5 separate regions of the Homo sapiens genome follow, and regions 2, 3, 4 and 5 are each reported to be linked to region 1. Evidence: microRNA targets listed by miRTarBase, many of them from high-throughput screens and not tested one by one. Region 1 holds a microRNA gene; each other region holds the end of a gene's coding sequence.

Evidence for each region. Region 1 holds the annotated microRNA hsa-miR-6736-3p (UCAGCUCCUCUCUACCCACAG, at 2,770-2,790, opposite strand). A microRNA usually pairs through its seed, bases 2 to 8, with sites in the 3' UTR of a target mRNA and lowers its output. Matches are read on the target gene's strand: a 7mer-m8 pairs with bases 2 to 8, a 7mer-A1 pairs with bases 2 to 7 and ends in A, and an 8mer does both.
Region 2: the mRNA of NYAP2 is a reported target of hsa-miR-6736-3p. The part of its 3' UTR that is shown has no 7-base or 8-base seed match.
Region 3: miRTarBase lists MLXIP as a target of hsa-miR-6736-3p. Seed matches in the 3' UTR shown: 7mer-m8 at 1,317-1,323.
Region 4: miRTarBase lists OAF as a target of hsa-miR-6736-3p. Seed matches in the 3' UTR shown: 7mer-m8 at 2,318-2,324 and 7mer-m8 at 2,259-2,265.
Region 5: miRTarBase lists A2ML1 as a target of hsa-miR-6736-3p. Seed matches in the 3' UTR shown: 7mer-m8 at 1,291-1,297 and 7mer-A1 at 1,846-1,852.

Annotation. Positions count from the first base shown.
Region 1 is chr1:145,847,818-145,852,405 of GRCh38, forward strand. It overlaps MIR6736 (microRNA 6736), which reads right to left and starts at 2,828; the gene lies at 2,770-2,828. It overlaps PIAS3 (protein inhibitor of activated STAT 3), which reads right to left. Exons shown (of 14, transcript NM_006099.3): 10 at 3,203-3,336; 11 at 2,954-3,122; 12 at 2,636-2,769; 13 at 2,415-2,452; 14 at 705-1,895. The coding sequence ends at 1,629. It overlaps NUDT17 (nudix hydrolase 17), which reads left to right. Exons shown (of 8, transcript NM_001012758.3): 7 at 295-447; 8 at 560-1,137. The coding sequence ends at 662. RefSeq lists an enhancer at 1,864-3,063.
Region 2 is chr2:225,698,104-225,701,103 of GRCh38, forward strand. NYAP2 (neuronal tyrosine-phosphorylated phosphoinositide-3-kinase adaptor 2) reads left to right here. Exons shown (of 8, transcript NM_001371273.1): 8 at 214-3,000. The coding sequence ends at 441. The region is part of intron 5 of LOC105373914 (a long non-coding RNA gene); the gene reads right to left. Among named protein-coding and RNA genes, the nearest start is that of NYAP2, 300 kb to the left of the region's middle.
Region 3 is chr12:122,141,360-122,144,359 of GRCh38, reverse strand. It overlaps MLXIP (MLX interacting protein), which reads right to left. Exons shown (of 17, transcript NM_014938.6): 17 at 1-2,669. The coding sequence ends at 2,548. Among named protein-coding and RNA genes, the nearest start is that of IL31, 31 kb to the left of the region's middle. RefSeq lists a silencer at 1,671-1,871.
Region 4 is chr11:120,228,892-120,231,891 of GRCh38, reverse strand. It overlaps OAF (out at first homolog), which reads right to left. Exons shown (of 4, transcript NM_178507.4): 4 at 1,558-3,000. The coding sequence ends at 2,750. Among named protein-coding and RNA genes, the nearest start is that of POU2F3, 9.7 kb to the left of the region's middle.
Region 5 is chr12:8,874,772-8,877,771 of GRCh38, forward strand. A2ML1 (alpha-2-macroglobulin like 1) reads left to right here. Exons shown (of 36, transcript NM_144670.6): 35 at 200-241; 36 at 1,287-2,016. The coding sequence ends at 240. Among named protein-coding and RNA genes, the nearest start is that of PHC1, 38 kb to the right of the region's middle.

The DNA of each region.
Region 1 (4,588 bases):
GGGGAGATTTAAGGAGAGTGGGTCAGCTGATAATTAAGAAGGTACATGAAATCTAAGACACTGACCATCAAACCCCAAAGATTCTTGCTCTAACTGGCTAGCATTGAAGGTCTAAGTGTCAGTTCTAACACAGGGGCAAGTCATTTAACCCTCCTTGAACCTGTTTCCTTTCTGCAAATGAGGTCAACACCCACCCACCTCCTGTGGTAGTTGGGAGGATTCGGGGACCTAACATATATGTAAGTTCTTTGTAAGCTACAAGGCACAGCCCCAACAGGAGTTGTCACCATGCAGTGCAGTGGAACTAGAGGAGGATGGAAGAGCCCGACCTCTGGTCCTGCACATGTCCACCCTCCTGCGGATGATCCCAACCATGGCAGAGGACAAAGAGAGAGTCAGCACTGGAACCAAGTTTGCCCTCAAGCTCTGGCTGCAACATCTGGGCAGGTAAAAGTGAAAAAGGACTGGAGAGCTCCACAGTACTGGGCTGGAATGGTCTAGTTTTTACAGGCACGGGGGAAAGCAGGAAAGGACAACCTCTCTTGGAATTCCTCCACAGAACACCCCCACCGTGTAAAAGTGCAGCTTACCTGGACCCAGGGCCAGCAAAGGAAGAATGGAACATGGACCCTCTTCCCCCAAACCAGGGGTCTGGAAAGTGAAGTGTAAAATCCCCTCCCTAGCCCATCTCCATGACACTCACAGAACATTCACAACCTTTATTATGGGTGAGAGCTTCACTACAACTTTAGAAATAAAAAGTAAAATTACAACATAGGTCCTAGGCCTTGGCGAGCCTGAAAAAGAAGATTGGGAAGGAGGGCACAGGGTCCTTCCACCTCCCTGGAAAGGTGCAGAATGAGCCAGGCCTAACTACAGGGCCATGAGCCTCTAGAAGCTTAGGGGGGAATAAGAAACACTGTGAACTTAGATATATAAATAGAGAGAGACCCAAGCAATAGGCCGGGCCTGACTCCCAGACCCCTGCAGATCATGGCTAAGGCCTTACATCCTCCTCTGTCATACTGGAGTAGGAGGCAGGGGAAGTCATCTTTGGAGTATTTTGGTTTTTCTTATTTATGTACAAAAAAGTCCACATCCACAATCCAAAATAAAGTTCTCTGTCCATCTCTGAAACTGCCTGTCTCAGTTTTTCCACCTGTCTGTTTGGCCGAAGGGAATGGAATAGACATGAAGAGACAATGGATGTGAAGAAGAAATAGAGCCATGGGTTTGGGTAATAAGAAGAGAGAGCATTTGGGGTTCAAGAGAGGTGCCCCTTCCCCAAGAGGCTCTAGACATAGTCAAGGCTGAGGGTTCAGCCCTTCTCCTAGCTCACATACCATCCCATTTGCCTCCCACTGCCTAGGTTAACATACCCAAAGGAATGTGCCACCATCTAAAGAACATTTCCAGAAACAGACCCCAGTGTCCTTAAAAAGAGGTTAAATATTAACCCTTTGGGTGCTGGCCTTGTCAGGCAGAGATGAGGCCAAAAGTAGGCATCTGTGAAGGTCTGTCTGGCCCTTGGCCAGAGCCCCCAGAGGGATCAGAGTAGCTGGGGTTGGGACTCCACAGCATACTTGCTCAGTGTTGGGGGACAGCGAAGTTTCCATAATCCAGGGAACTCAGTCCAGGGAAATGATGTCTGACCGACAGCCAGTCAAAGAGGGACCTGAGGGCAGGGGTCCTCCATGCCCCTCCCTCAAGGCCCCCCCAGGGGCCACAATGCTGCTGACACGGCCAGGAGGGGGCGCCGGAGTGGCGCTGCAGTGGGAGCTCCCCAGCGTGGGGGCCAGTGGGCCCAGAAAGTGAGAAGGGGTCCCTCGGTACTGGAAGAAGTGGCCAAGGGCATCCTGTTCATCTAGTGAGGTGATGACAGAGGGGCCATAGTGCTAGGAAGAATCAAGGGCATAGTTTAAGATCTCAATCCCGACTTCCCCACCTCCCAGTCACTCATCTCAGAAATGCCGTATGAGAGCAATCAACCCCTGTGGATCCGAAGGTATTCTCTTGAGAAGCAGGAGAGCCTCTCCCTCTTTCCCCTACTTCCCTACACCCTTCCCCTTTCCCTGCCTTGAGAGAGCTCCTCCAACTTGTTAGGTTCTTGGCTTTGTGGGCGTCTGAAATGTGTGGAATGTCCGGTTAGAGCAGGCATGGTGCTCTAAGTGCACACGGGGGTAGGGGTGAGTAGGCCAGGGCAGAAAAGTAACAGGGGATCTAGGAAGGAGGCCTAAGTAGGAATCTCAGGAACTACCAGTGGGGCTGAGGAGATAATAAGATACCTACACCCCACTGCCCTCACGGGAAAGCAGATTTACATCCCCAGAGATCATAAGAGAGGGAGGGGCCCCATCAGTGTCTAGAAAGGAAGCTTCAGAGATCTGAGACCTTCTGAAGAAAGAACCACTTACCTGACTCTCTGTCTGAAGAAATGAAAATAAATCTAAACCTGGCAGGAAAAGAAAAATCAAAATTAACCTCCTATCTGACCCCTTTACCACCAAAAGACAAAGCACTGTGGACTGTGGCCCCTTGCAGGAGAAGCAGGAGGCTTTGAGAAGGAACAGGGGTTCTGATGTAGCTCTGGGGAGGGTGTGGCAGTGCAGGGTCCATCTTATGACCCATGTCATACCTTGGATGTCGGCTCCCAGTGGGAAGGCAGGTGGGTACTCATGTAGTGGGAGACTGGACAGGAAATCCCCACCCAACGTGCCCATAGCAGGGCTCCTTAGCACCGAGGATGGCTGGTGGCCAGATGTCAGGACTCTGTGGGTAGAGAGGAGCTGAGGCAGCCAGCAAACCACAGATGCCCTCACCCAGCTCAGGTCCCCAGGTTCCCTCTCTGTCCCCTCCACATTTCTCTTGCCCCAGGCTTTGTCCAATGATCAGAAAGCAATCCTGACTTCTTCCCCTGTCCGTTTTGCTGTAGACTCAGCCTATTTTCTCATACCCTTTGCTTCCAGGTAGGGCCGGGATGGCAGCTGAGGTGACAGAACAGTGCTTCTTGGTAGGGGGCAGATCCTCCTCATCTGATGAGCTTTCTATTGTCAAGTCAATAACTTCGACCTTCTTCTTATTCTCTGATGGATCTCCCCCCTGGACTGGGCTGTACTGGAGGCCTGTGGGTATTAAGAAGACTACGTCTCAGAGAAGAGGCCATCCAAGATTTAGCTTAGCTGGGGAACAGGGGGTCACTCACCATCCAGCCCATACCCTGGCGGGGGGCAAACCTCAGATGCCTCCTTCTTGGGTTTCATTGGGCACCAGGATCCATCTTCCATGAATTGGATCTCATCACAATCTGAACAGGAACTAAGAATCTCCATAAATAAACTGGGGGAAGAGAGAGATGAAAATTCACGGGGCTGGGAGATGAGCAGAACAGTAGCCAGAGTTCTGTAACTCACCTTCCTGTATCTCAGTTTCCTCATCTGTAAAATAAGAACATTATCCATCCTACTGGACCGCTCTGAGTTGTTGGAATCAAATAACACAAGGTATGTAAAAGAGCTTTGCAAAGTAAGTAATAGGTTTTAAAATAAATACAATCTGAGGCTGGGTGCAGTGGCTCACGCCTTTAATCCCAGCACTTTGGGAGGTACAGGCAGGTGAATCACTTGAGGCTGGGAGTTCAAGACCAGCCTGGCCAACATGGTGAAACCTCATCTCTACTAAAAATACAAAAATTAGCCAGGTGTGGTGGCACATGCCTATAATCCCAGCTACTTAGGAGGCTGAGGCACGAGAATCGCTTGAACCCAGGAGGCAGAGGTTGCAGTGAGCCTAGACCACACCACTGTTCTCCACCCTGGGAAACAGAGCAAGGCTCTGCCTCAAAAAAAAAAAAAAAAAAAAAGCCGGCGTGGTGGCTCACGCCTATAATCACACTTTCAGAGACTGAGGTGGGTGGATCACCTGAGGTCAGGAGTTCGAGACCAGCCTGGCCAACATGGTGAAACCCCATCTCTACCAAAAATACAAAATTAGCCGGATGTGGCGGCACATGCCTGTAATCCCAGCTACTCAGGAGGCTGAGGCAGGAGAATTGCTTGAACCCAGGAGGCAGAGGTTGCATGAGCTGAGATCACGAGACTGTGCCATACCACTCCAGCCTGGGTGACAGAGTGAAACACCGTCTCAAAAAAAAAAAAAAAAAAAATCTGAGCACTTACGTGTAGTATAAGGAACAAAAGGAGCAGAGACACAGAAGTCCATAAACCATCTCCAAAAGGCACTGGGTCTTTGGCTTTCTAAACACTTGTGTAAAAATAAATAAATAAAGGCACTAGGGGCCAGGCATGGTAGCTCATGCCTGCAATCCTAGCACTTTGGGAGGCCAAGGTGGGAGGATCACTTGAGGCCAGGAGGTCGAGGCTGCAGTGAGCTATGATTGTGCTACTATACTCCAGTCTGGGCAACAGAACGAGACCCTGTCTCAAAAACAAACAAACAAACAAAAAGTGGGGGAGCACTGGGAACAGGAACCATAATGTAGATTCCAAAAAGAGGTTAAGACTAGCAAGATCAAAAGATTAGAACATCCAGGCCCTGAAAAGAACCTTATTGCAATGCTCAGTGGGAAGTC
Region 2 (3,000 bases), not on the chromosome of region 1:
GGAGGTTGAGGCTGCTGTGAGCTGTGATTGCATCATCGTATTCTTAGCCTGGGTGAGGGTGAGACCTTGTCTAAAACAAGACAAAACTAAAAAGAATTTTAGAAGAGATATAGAAACAGCTGACATTGTTCTAAGAAACTACTAGCACAGTGCAAAAGAAATATGCTTTCATTCCATTTTTTTCTTCTGTATTCACTCTTTCTTTTTTGCTAGGTGGCATGCATGCAGTGGTTTCATGGAGACCATACAATGCTTGAGATGATTGAGAAAAAGCGTTGCTTGTGCAAGGAAATAAAGGCTAGACAGAAAACGGAAAAGGGCCTTTGCAAACAGGATAGCATGCCTATCTTGCCCAGCTGGAAGAAGAATGCAGGTGCCAAGAAGTACAGCCCTCCACCGTATTCTAAACAGCAAACGGTATTCTGGGATACTGCCATATGAGTGTGTGCAGGATGGTGTGAGCTCTACATTTCTTAATATGAAGAGGGAGGTCGACTCGGTCATATGATAATGAACTGTTACATATCTTTTCTGTGGGAGTGGAATGCCACGGGAAGCTGTGCCTATTCGTGGCAAGTTCAAGATAAAATGCATATGTCCTTGCAATGAAGGCACACTTATTTATCCCGGATTATTTTGAATCCAGAAGATATTAAAATGTAAATATTTTACTAGTTTATGGGTGACATCTGAAATAATACACATTATACGTATATAAATTACAGAAATATCAAGAGTTTACTATATGATATAATTTCAGTATTAACTGGTTTGTTATCTCTTTTATATGTAATCCCTTGATGCCTTTTATTATTAATTTTTGCATTTAAAATGTTTTTTTTCCCTTGCCCACATTTGGTTTCTGTACAAGAGCTCACAACTATAAATCATGTTCAATCACGTAATATATGATCTGGTGCTAGTAACGTAGAAGTTGAATATCATATTTGTTAAGAGCATCTGTGCTTTTTAAGTTTCAAGGGTTTGACAGGAAATGAATGCAAATGTGATGCTTAATTTGGACGTCCAAGTTACATTGACAACAATATTTTTGCTACATTGGCTTTATAAGAATTTCTCTTTAGCATCCTCTGGCAATGGTTAGGCTAACCATTAGTCTGACTTAGTAATAACTAAGCAATGGTTAGTCAGACTCCAGAGAAAGTTACTAGGATATATTGGACATCCCAGCAGAAAACATTTCCTTCAGAAATGACTTTAGGGACATGTGTCCTTGCATCATTGATCTGATTGGAGGAGACCAGGGTTCACTGTGACAATGGAAGGAACAAGGAATTAATAGCTCAAGAGCATGACTGCTTTCAAGAAAGTGGGACCAGTGGCATTGTAGCCACCATAATCACTATATTTAAGTAACTTTTCATGTGTATGCTTGTTTCCCCAAGAAAATGAGAAATAAACATTCAACTAGACCAGTTTACATATTTTAATACACTAAATGCCAATCTTTCTAAAAGTTTAGATCTATTAATAAAATATGTATTTCTTGTTAATTTTTTCAAACTGGTTATCACCACATTTCTGGGTCATAATCTTCTGTATGTGATCATCACACCCATTCTTACTGATTATGACACCATGACCAAAGAATTATGATCATGTTTCATTTCATTTTGTTTCAAGAAAGAGACAGGAAATGCAGGGGATGAGGGATGGGGTGGATTCAATTTTATGTAGTGGTGAAATTTAAGTTAAAAAAATCATATATATCTTTTAAGAAGAACTTGTTAGTTGAATATAAATATTGCCACGAATGAATAAAAAAGAAACTATCGCATATATTTTGTATATTTAAATTACTATTTATGCCTCCTAAAATTGATAGTATGTGGTTCTTTGTTAACAATCAATTTAGTATTATATTTCTGAGAGAAAAGATGTGTTTTTGAAGTTATTGTTATAGCAGTTTTTCTTGTAAGGGTATTGACAGCAATAGTTCAGTGCTGCTCAATAAAACCAAATATAACAGGAGTTAGAGAATCTTTGTAATCTATATTGCTACAAACCTAGTAATGCTTTATCAGTAATAGTTTCTTTCAAAAGCCTTTTCAATGTTATAACATGATTTTCTAATGTTTTATAATTAATGTGTATTTTGATGTCCAATTCAAATTCTGAAAAAATAAGGAAAAAGGTAAGTGGGAGCAGTGTATGGTTGGTGTGTCTGTGAGCGTGCGTGCATGTGTGTGTGTGTGAGTGTGTGTGTACATGAACGAATACTCAGTGGGAGAACTGTATACATAAAACGCTTACTGAAGTTGCAGGTTCTGCTTGTATAATTGAGGTGGTAGAAAACCGGGATCACAAATGCAGGAAATTAGGAAGGGATCTTAAGTAGCTTAAATAAAACCCGCCAGCATGTTTCACCAGCTATAGATTATGTTTCAAACCAAATAATCTATGAAGCACAAATCTAAGGGTGATGAAAATGTGTTTAGATAAAATCAGAATGGAAATAAAATGTGTTTATGACCCAAGTTGTTATCCTGATTTAAGTTATTATGACCACATATACTCAAGCCTATCAGTCAGACACAAGATACTAATTCTCAGCATGTCTATGATTACGTATATATTCAGGCTCAGTATGGTGATGATTAACCCTCCCTTAAAATTTATATTTAGGGAACATCTTTCTGTGGGGAGATGCAAGTGTGTTTTTCAGATGCGTATCTTTCCCATATCACTCTGATTTAGGCAGAAAGTTTATTTAATGTTGGCCATTTGTCAAGAAGGAAACAAAAGTACTAAAATGATCTGTGTTGGATTAAACCATTCCTGTTTGTTCTATCAAACTTATGCTAGGGCCAGGTTTCATGCACTCCTTTTTCAAATGCATTATTTTCTGAGGCGGTAACTTGTTTGAAAATTTGACCTTAGGCAACCATTTTCATTTATTTCCGCAAATCTCTACTTAAGTGGAAAGTGACTGAAAGATCTGGAAAAGTGGCTTCACTGAGATTTGACTCAAGAACTGTT
Region 3 (3,000 bases), not on the chromosome of region 1:
TCCTTCAGCTTCAGCCTCCCAAAGTGCTAGGATCACAGGCAGGAGCCACCGTGCCCAGCCAAGATTGATTTTCTTACTCTCCAAAGCGTCAGCATTTTGAAGTTTCTTTTATGAAAGTGGGGGCAAGAATCAGGGTGAAAATGAGTGTAAACAAAGCCCATCCTGTGGTCAGCACCCACTGGAGGTGGCCAGCAGAGTGGCCTCAGATGTTCCTGCACCTGGCCCAGGAGCCCAGGACAGAGGTCAAATCTAGGCCCCTTGGTCTGGCTGGATTCATCAGGCAAGATTCGAAAACAAGAAAACCTCTAGAACAAGAAACAATCATGTCTGCAGCAGATACGGCACTGTGGCCCTATGGCCATGGCAATCGTGAGCACCAAGAGAATGAGTTACAGAAATATCTCCAATACAAAGACATGCATCTCCTGGACAGTGGACAGTCGCTGGGACACACACACACACTTCAAGGCTCACACAACCTAACAGCCTTAAATATCTGAAGAAACAGAATCACGACATTAAGTCAGCAGAGGGAGAGGTAGGCTGAAGCAGCAGGAGGCCAATTTTATATCCCACAGATTTTTTTAAAAATGACTCCCCAGCAAGGGGTGGGGAGAAAGCCACTGATTTAGGAGAGTTCTTGGCTCAGCCAACCACTGCGGTTATCTACACGTTTTACAAAGGCACAGAAGTAGAGAGGGGCTGCACTCACGACCCTCCCCAGGGCCCGCACAGCCAGACACGGTGGGTTCTTCCTTTTTCCCTTCTGGCCTTGGTGGAATTCCTACCACGGTGGCCTCTGCCTTTGGGACAATGCCTTCATGCTCATCCCCGGGTCAAGGATGGAGTCTGTTACCATTTTCCAGGGGAAATTCCAAGGACCAGCCCCGCCTCATTACGTTCACCCCACAGGAAGGTGATCTGGAAAGCCTGTAAACACGTACTCTGGGTGGCTGAGTGGTGTCACCAAGCTGCTTTTGTGCAGGGCTGAAGCACAGACAAGAGGGCAGGCAGCTGGCCGGAGGCCTGAAGTGGGGAGAGATCCCCGCAGGCCTGCAGGAGCCAGGGAGAACCTCCAACTGGATCTAAACTGTGGGACAGCCCAGGCGTGCCCCTCTTCACATGGCTCCCAGGCTCCCTCAAAGCCCTTCCCAGGCCCTGCAGGAAGAGAGGGAGGGTGAGGAGAGGCAGGGAGGGCAGAGGTCGCCTGAAAGCCTGGGCTCCGAACTCCTCAGCAGAGCTTTAAAGTGCATTCTTTCCACGAGGAGGTACCCTCGGCCGGGCTTCCTGAGTGCTGGAGAGAGTGCTTGCCCCTGCAGCTCCCTGCAGAGGTAGCCAGAGAAGAGCAAGGACTGAGGCTGGGCCAAACTCTCACTGCAGGCTCAGAATGGCCCCCAGCCCAGCCACACCTCCACCCAGCCCAGATCTGGGTAGATTCTTTGCTGTCTGATCTGAGAGATGCCTAGAAACAGCTCTGAGGGCTGACCACCACAGAGTGCTGCCTGCCAACATTGTTTCCTTCTCCAAACACAAGACGGGACAGACTTTTGAGTGTGGGGGCATCTTTGGTCCGAGAACTGTCCTGGTTTGGGGCTCCCAGCTGAAAGACATCAGACAAGATGACAAGGCTGACAGCAGGACGTGGAGTCTGATCTTTCAGACACTAGAACTTCAGGGTTCTAAGCTCCCACAGGACATGCTTGATCTGTCAACAGCTGCAGCTGGAGCCAAGTGGAGAAGAACGGCAGAAGGGCCACAGCGGTGAGGTGACATCCGAGAAGGCCCTGGGCTGAGTCCCCATGGATCCTGCAATGTCAGGTGGAGCTAAAAGGGGACAGATGAAACATGCCCAGCAGGGCCTCTCAGCCAGAGCAGCCACCGTGCATCACACGCTTCCATTCTGGTCCTGTGTGTTCCACATCCACCGTTTCTGCACACATGTGTCCTGGAGGACCTCTGAAGAAGGCACTTCCCCCTGGCAGCCTGCCATGCATAAGCCTGAATAGAAGCCCAAGTCCATCCACAAGGGCTGGGTGCTGTCAGAGTTGAGGGGAGAAAGAAAGACGCCTTCCAACTGCCCCACGGGCAGACCAGAGAGTGGAGCAGGGCATCAGGCAGAGGCATGCATGTGGACAGGACGTGGCAGGAGGGACAAGGCTGGGCCTCAGGACAGGAGCAGGCCCTGTCACCCTCATCCCATCGATTCCGCTCACCGGCGCCAGGCCCGGCAGGCCACCAGCAGGGCAGGACCAGCACGGCCAGCACTTCCCTTTTGTGTGGGCTGCCCCGAGGGCAGAGGAGGTTGGTGACTGAGGTCACTGAGTGAGAGAGTTCACAGCAAGGGGTTCCCAAAGGCGGGCTATTGCTGTCAGCAGGCCCCAAACCTGCTTCAGACCTGAGCATGGCCTCCCGATGCCACGGTGGGCCGGCAGAGTTGGAGAGAGGCCCCGAGGCTGAGCGTCAGGAAGGGCTGGGGGGCGCAGCCTACTCTCCATGGGCAGGGAAGGGTCTCCTGGCATCTCATGCGGCCACATGCCAGCTAAGCAGCTAGGACTCTCCCAATCTCTTGCCAATCCTGGTGACAGCCTTGGACGCCTGCTCTGGCAGCTGTGCCGGGTCTGTGAGGATGGAGGTGGAGGTGCTCAGCTGCCGCAGCGTGCTCAATACCACTGCAAGACAGAAAGGGTCAGACACAGGCAGTGACACAGACCCACCACACACCGCACACTCGGCTTTGTACCTACAACCCATGTGGGAATGCTCAGGCACGGGGCGAGCAGCAGCCATGCTGGACTGCAGGGAGGAGTGCCAGGGGCCGACACCGAGACCTGGGCACTCACCCCTCTGCCTCCAGAAGCCTCCCCAAATCCAGGAGCTGCCGTAGGTGGAGCATCCTATGCTGTTCCTGGTGCCATGGGGCTGCCAGCTGTTCTGATATTAAGCTTCTATAACCTTAACATATGGGATAATCTTTGCTTGTTGTTATAAGAATTAAACAAG
Region 4 (3,000 bases), not on the chromosome of region 1:
CTGGCTGGCCAACCTCATAAAGCACTTTGGGTTGGGAGGGGGTGTGGAGTAAGAAGGACAGGGGTTGGATCTCAGTTCTGTTCTAACAAGATGCCTGGACTTGAACTTGGGCTGGTCACACAATTTTATAAGGGAGCCACATCTATAAAATGTTACAGAGTCACTACAAGGAGCCAATGGCCAATTTATATGAAGGCACATTGTAAACCCTAAAGTCCGCAGAGAAATAAGTACTGATATTACCACTCCCAAGTGTTTTACACGGCCACAAAAGCCTCCTGCGATAGGGAAGTCTTATCTCAGTGTTTGCCAAACAGCTGACCACCTACATCTATTTCAACAAGCTCCTAAGTGATTCTGATGCACACTAAAATTTGCTTTTCAGCAAAGAAGTGACTGTCACGGCAGGATTTCAGGTGCTGTGACAGTGGGGCTAAGGCGGTTGGGCGAGTGCTTTGGAATGGTGGACTCGAGCCCTTGGATGTGGCCCTGTGGGAGGTGCCTACTTTGCAGAGTGTTAAGGTCAGCCCAAAGTCTCAGGGATTCTTCTCATCACCATCCCCTGAGACTAAGGAGCCCAAGGCAGCTGGTGTCTGTAGTGATGGTGTCCAGAGCCCCCTCACTGCAGGGGCCAGACAAGCTAGGAGGTGCTAGTCAAGGAAGGTCAGAAAAACACTCCAAGTCTTGAAAACATTGCTTTTTAAAAAAGCATTATTTTTGGTGACTTGGAAATCAGAAGGGAAAACATACTGATTTGGGGACTCCCCTTCCATCAAAAAAGGCACACAGGAGGTAGCAGGTGCCTTCTCCAAGTATCCCTTGCCCACCTGGAGCAATGGCTGGGGCTTGGGATGGAGGCCCTGGCAGAAAGGGAAGGAGAAAAAGGACTGGGGGGTGACTGATGGGACAGCTCCCTCCCCATCCCCCAGCAAGGCTGAGCTGGTCCTTGAAAACAGGTTCAGAAGGGAGGTGTGCCCACCTGAAAAGGTTATCTCCCCGCTGACCCTCAGCTCAACCAAGGCCAAGCAAGCCCAGCTCCCTCAACCCTCTGGCCTGCATGAGTTCAAGGGGCAGTTGCAGCCTGTTCTGGGAGTTCTGGGAGCAGAGTAAAGGGGACCACCCTGCAAACCCCTTCCCTCGCCAAGGCCTTCAAGGAAGGATCTGACTGTCCCCATCTCTTCCTTGAGAAAGTTGGGTCACCTGGGGAACCCATGAGACTCTTCCAACCCCTAAAACACTCCTGCCTCCACCTTGCCAAATCGTTACCATCTTCCAGCCTCAACCCACACCCCAACTCTTCCAGAAAGCCTTTCCCAATACATGCAGCCTGCACATCCCTCGCTCTGGAACCATCCAGAACCCTGCCCGGCACTTCCTATTACAGCCTCTTCATGTTGAAAGATACTTTGGAAGTGAAGAGCCTTCCAGATGTCTGATTTCATTGAGTCAGGCTTATAGCTGCAGGAATGTCTGCTTTTTTCACTAATAGTAATGATACTAAGAATGGCTAACAGCACTATGTGCTAGATGCTTGACATGCAAGAATTCACTTCGGTCTCTTAAGTAAGCTCATTTTATAGCTAAGGGAGTGGAGGCACAGAGAGGTCAAGCAACTTGACCCATGGCTGCACAGCAGGTAAGTAGCCGAGCCCAGATCTGAAGCGGGGTTCCAATCTCCACCCCATCTCTTGCCTTCGCGCTGGCTATTTCTGACTGGCTTACTACGGTTGCAGCTATGTCTGTCTCATTGTCTTGGGTGCAGAAGTTTTATCTCATCCTTCCCTAGTAACATCTTCCTTCTCCTCCTTCCTTCCTCAAATGGCTGAGCACACAGTAGGTGCTTTCGAAGTTCTTGTTCCAAGATAGGCCACTGCTAGGGTGTGGGGACACTTTCTGACATCAGGTGGCAGCATTGGCCAAAAGTTTTCTCCAAACTCTGGGTCTCATTAGTCAAGTAAAAACTTAAAACGTTTATTTCTGGTAGAAATGATAAATACTTTGCACTAAAAATCTGGAATTCAAGTTTTCCTCGTACTTCATGCTCCCTCCCTGCCCCAGAACCTTACAAAAATATTTCTGTGTAGAGAGGGAAAGAGCTGGTGCCTGCTCTGGAGGCAACGTCCAGGTCCGGGAAAGGCACTCGTGGTCTGTGATCTGTCTCAGTGATGGGAGGTCTCCACTCGCCCCACAGGCAGCCTCGGGGCCAGAGATGAGAATATGCTGTAATCCAGTACAGGGGCTGCGTCGTGGGTCCCCAACAGCTCCTTCTTTGGGGATAGTGAGCCCCTTGTTGGGGAGTAGGAAGGGACTGAGGGGCCAGCTCCTTCCAGATGTGTGCATGGGGAAGGGAGTTGTGTCTGGGGAGGTGGGTGTCCAGGTATAGACTCCTTTTAGGGTCTAAACGTTCAAGGAGTTCAACAGAACAACCAGAGGCCATCATGTTTTGGCAGCTTGCAAGTGAACACTCCAGGGGAGATGCAGGAGGGAGGGGTGTAGATCTGGGGAGCCCTTCTCTCCCTCTCTGCCCGCAAGGAAGGCACAGGGTGGGAATGGGGGTGCCTTCATGAGACCCCCTGCCATGCCACACCCCCTTCACAGTCATGTGAGATGGGGCCAGAGGGGCCCAGGCTCTAGGGCCAGGGGAGTGGGGAGGGAGGGAAATAAGGCCTCAGGTGGGGGTTGCCACCCCCTCTAGTGGCTGGTGAAGAGCAGTGGGCCCAGAGCAGCCACCCGCCAGGTTGCTCCCACCCTAGCCTGGGTAGGGATCCTCATCCCAGAGACACAGCTGCCTCTGGGGCACGTAGAAGTCGAAGCTGTAGCTCTTCTGGCAGCTGCGGATGCCACACTTGTAGGGCGTGGGCCGGTCGCGGCTGTGGCAGTACTTGAGCATGCAGGGGTACCAGGCCAGGCTCAGGCCATAGCGGCAGACGCAGGGCTTCCCGTGGTCCCCCACCTGCCTGCAGCGAGGCAGCTCCGCCTGCTCTGAGGCCTTGGGCAGAG
Region 5 (3,000 bases), not on the chromosome of region 1:
ATTTCTATTATTTTTGGTATGATTAATAGTTTGTCACAATGTACAAATATTAGTGATTGAAACTTTCTTGTAATTCTGAATATGCTCATAACCTGTAGAGATTCTCTGGAAGGGGCTCAAGCAGTAGCTTTTCTGAAGCATTTTCCCTCTGAATATAGGAGGCCCTCAAAGTAATAATATGACTTATTTCATTTCACAGATGAACAGGCAACAATTCAGTATTCTGATCCCTGTGAATGAGGTAAGTCCAGCGGAGAAATGGGTGGAGTTATGGGTTAGGGTGGCAGAAGTTAAGAGGAGCCTCTTTTCGAGTTACTGTCATTGTCTTTTTTTGAGATAGAGTCTCGCGGTGTTGCCCAGGCTGGAGGGCAGTGGCGGAGGTTGAGTGGCTCACTTCCCAGCTTCAAGCGATTCTCCTGCCTCAGCCTCCTGAGTTGCTGGGATTATAGGCGCCCACCATGATGCCTGGCTAATTTTTGTATTTTTAGTAGAGACAGAGTTTCACCATGTTGACCAGGCTGGTCTCGAACTCCTGACTTCAGGTGATCTGCCCACCTCGGCCTCCCAAAGTGCTGAGATTACAAGCATGAGCCACCACACTCAGCCCTGTTATTGTCTTTTGGAAGCTATTGTTGATAGAAAGTGAGCTTTCCTTTTTTGTCTTAAACTTTTTTTTTTTTTTTAAACAGGATCTGGCTCTGTTGCCCAGGCTGCAGTGCAGTGGCGTGATCTCAGCTCACTGCAGCCTCTGCCTCCCAAGTTCAAGCGATTCTTGTGCCTCAGCCTCCTGAGTAGCTGGGATGACAGGCACGTGCCATCACGCCCAGCTAATTTTTTTTGTATTTTTAATAGAGATGGGGTTTCGCCATGTTGGTCAGGCTGGTCTCAAACTCCTGGCCTCAGGTGATCCGCCTACTTCAGCCTCCCAAAGTGCTGGGATTACAGGTGTAAGCCACTGTGCCCGGCCTGTCCTAAACTCTTGAAAATAGTTTACAGAAGAAAAAGCTAATGCTTGGTATTAAAACAATACTTTTTTCTATCAGATTGAAAATGGATTGATTTTTCCTGATATTTTTACATGATACATCTTTGTTATATGAAAATACTAAGACAAAAGTAAAGGTTACCTGATTCTACACCTGTGAGATAACACTATTAATAATCCAACTGTGCATTTGTGAGATTTTTTTGTATATATATAGAGAGGTCAAGTATCCTCTATGTATGTAATGAGCTTCTGAGTATCACAGTGTCTTCTATTTTTTGTTTGATTGTTCGCTTTTCAGGATAGGAGCTGGAAACTCAATTAGTCCTCTGTGACATTTACTGGAGGGTGGAACATTCTTCTGTCGCTTGAAGCAGAACTCATTCAATCAAATAATTTAATTTCTCTGACTAGTATATGGGTAACAAATGAATATGTCTGAACCTCAGCTATAATACTTTCTACTACCTTTGCAAGGAGATGGGATAGGAACAATCACTCAGAGGAGGCGTTGCATGGGCAGGGTCATAGGGGGAAGAAAGGTGGTTTAGCTGTTTTATTTAGCCATTCAGGGGGCTCTCCAGAGAGGAGACGGTGGTAGAGGGTGAACTAGAGAAGATAAGAATGTCTTCCTAGGCCGGATGCGGTGGCTCACGCCTGTAATCCCAGCACTTTGGGATTGCGAGGTGGGCGGATCACTTGAGGTCAGGAGTTCAAGACCAGCCTGGCCAACATGGTAAAACCCGTCTCTACTAACAATACAAAGATTAGCCTGGTGTGGTGGCACGGGCCTGTAATCGCAGCCCCTTGGAAGGCCAAGGCAGGAGAATCGCCTCAACACTGGAGGTGGAGGTTGCAGTGAGCTGAGATTGTGCCACTGCACTCCAGCCTGGGCAATGAGGCAAGACCCTGTCTCAAAAAATAATAAATAATAATAATAATAATGTTTTTCTAGAGTTTCAGTCTAAGGGAAAATGTGATTTAGGGCTTTGGAAATTGGCTAAAAAAATAAAAATGGAAAAGAAAATCTGTGCATTTAGTTCTATGCATATTTCTTTGGAAACCAAAAGTTCTTTTAAAGGTGATGATCATCCTTTCCCCCAAAACTCACAGTTTGGTTTCTTCCTTAAACCTTTTAACCCAGACTTCTCAAAGAATCATCTTAAAGATGTGAGGACAGGTTAGAATAGAGAATTTTAATTATGGGGCTCTGCTCAACCAGCCCGCTACTGCAGGGCAAACAGTGATGGATTACAAGAAAAGTGGCTGGCCAGAATGCCGTTTCCATCTCTCTCGGTTTCTCTTCTGCATGATTCTCCCAACCTCTCCCCACATGGGCTATCTATCACCTATCACCGTGCAAGCACTTCCTCAGAGGAATGCTTTTGTTTTGGAAACAGGTTTGGAGGCAAAGGGATAAGGGAAGTAAGATGAATGATATTTAACAGAAAAGATTCTCTAGGCAATTACACCCTTTTATCCTGGGTATCCACTGGATCCATTATGCTCCCCTTGATTGCAAATTCTGACTGAAAAGTCAGGGAAAATAAGTACATTCTACAAAAATAAAAAATGACAGATGGGACCTACTTAAACTAAAGAGCTTCTGCACAGCAAAAGAAACTATCAACAGAGTAAACAGACAGCCTAAAGAATAGGAGAAAATATTAACAAACTGCCTCCAGCAAAGAACTAATATCCAGAATCTATAAGGAACTTAAACAAATCAACAAGAAAAAAACAAATAATCCCATTAAAACGTGGGCAAGGGGCATGAGCAGACACTTCTCAAAAGAAGAGTACAAGTGGCCAATAAACATATGAAAAAATGCTAACCATCACTAATCATCAGAGAAATGCAAAATCAAAACCACAATGAGATACCATCCACACTAGTTAGAATGGCTATTATTAAAGTCAGAAAATAAGAGATGTTGGCGAGGTAGCAGAGAAAAGGGAATGCTAACACACTGTTGGTGGGAAGGTAAATTAGTTCAGCCACTGTGGAAAGCAGT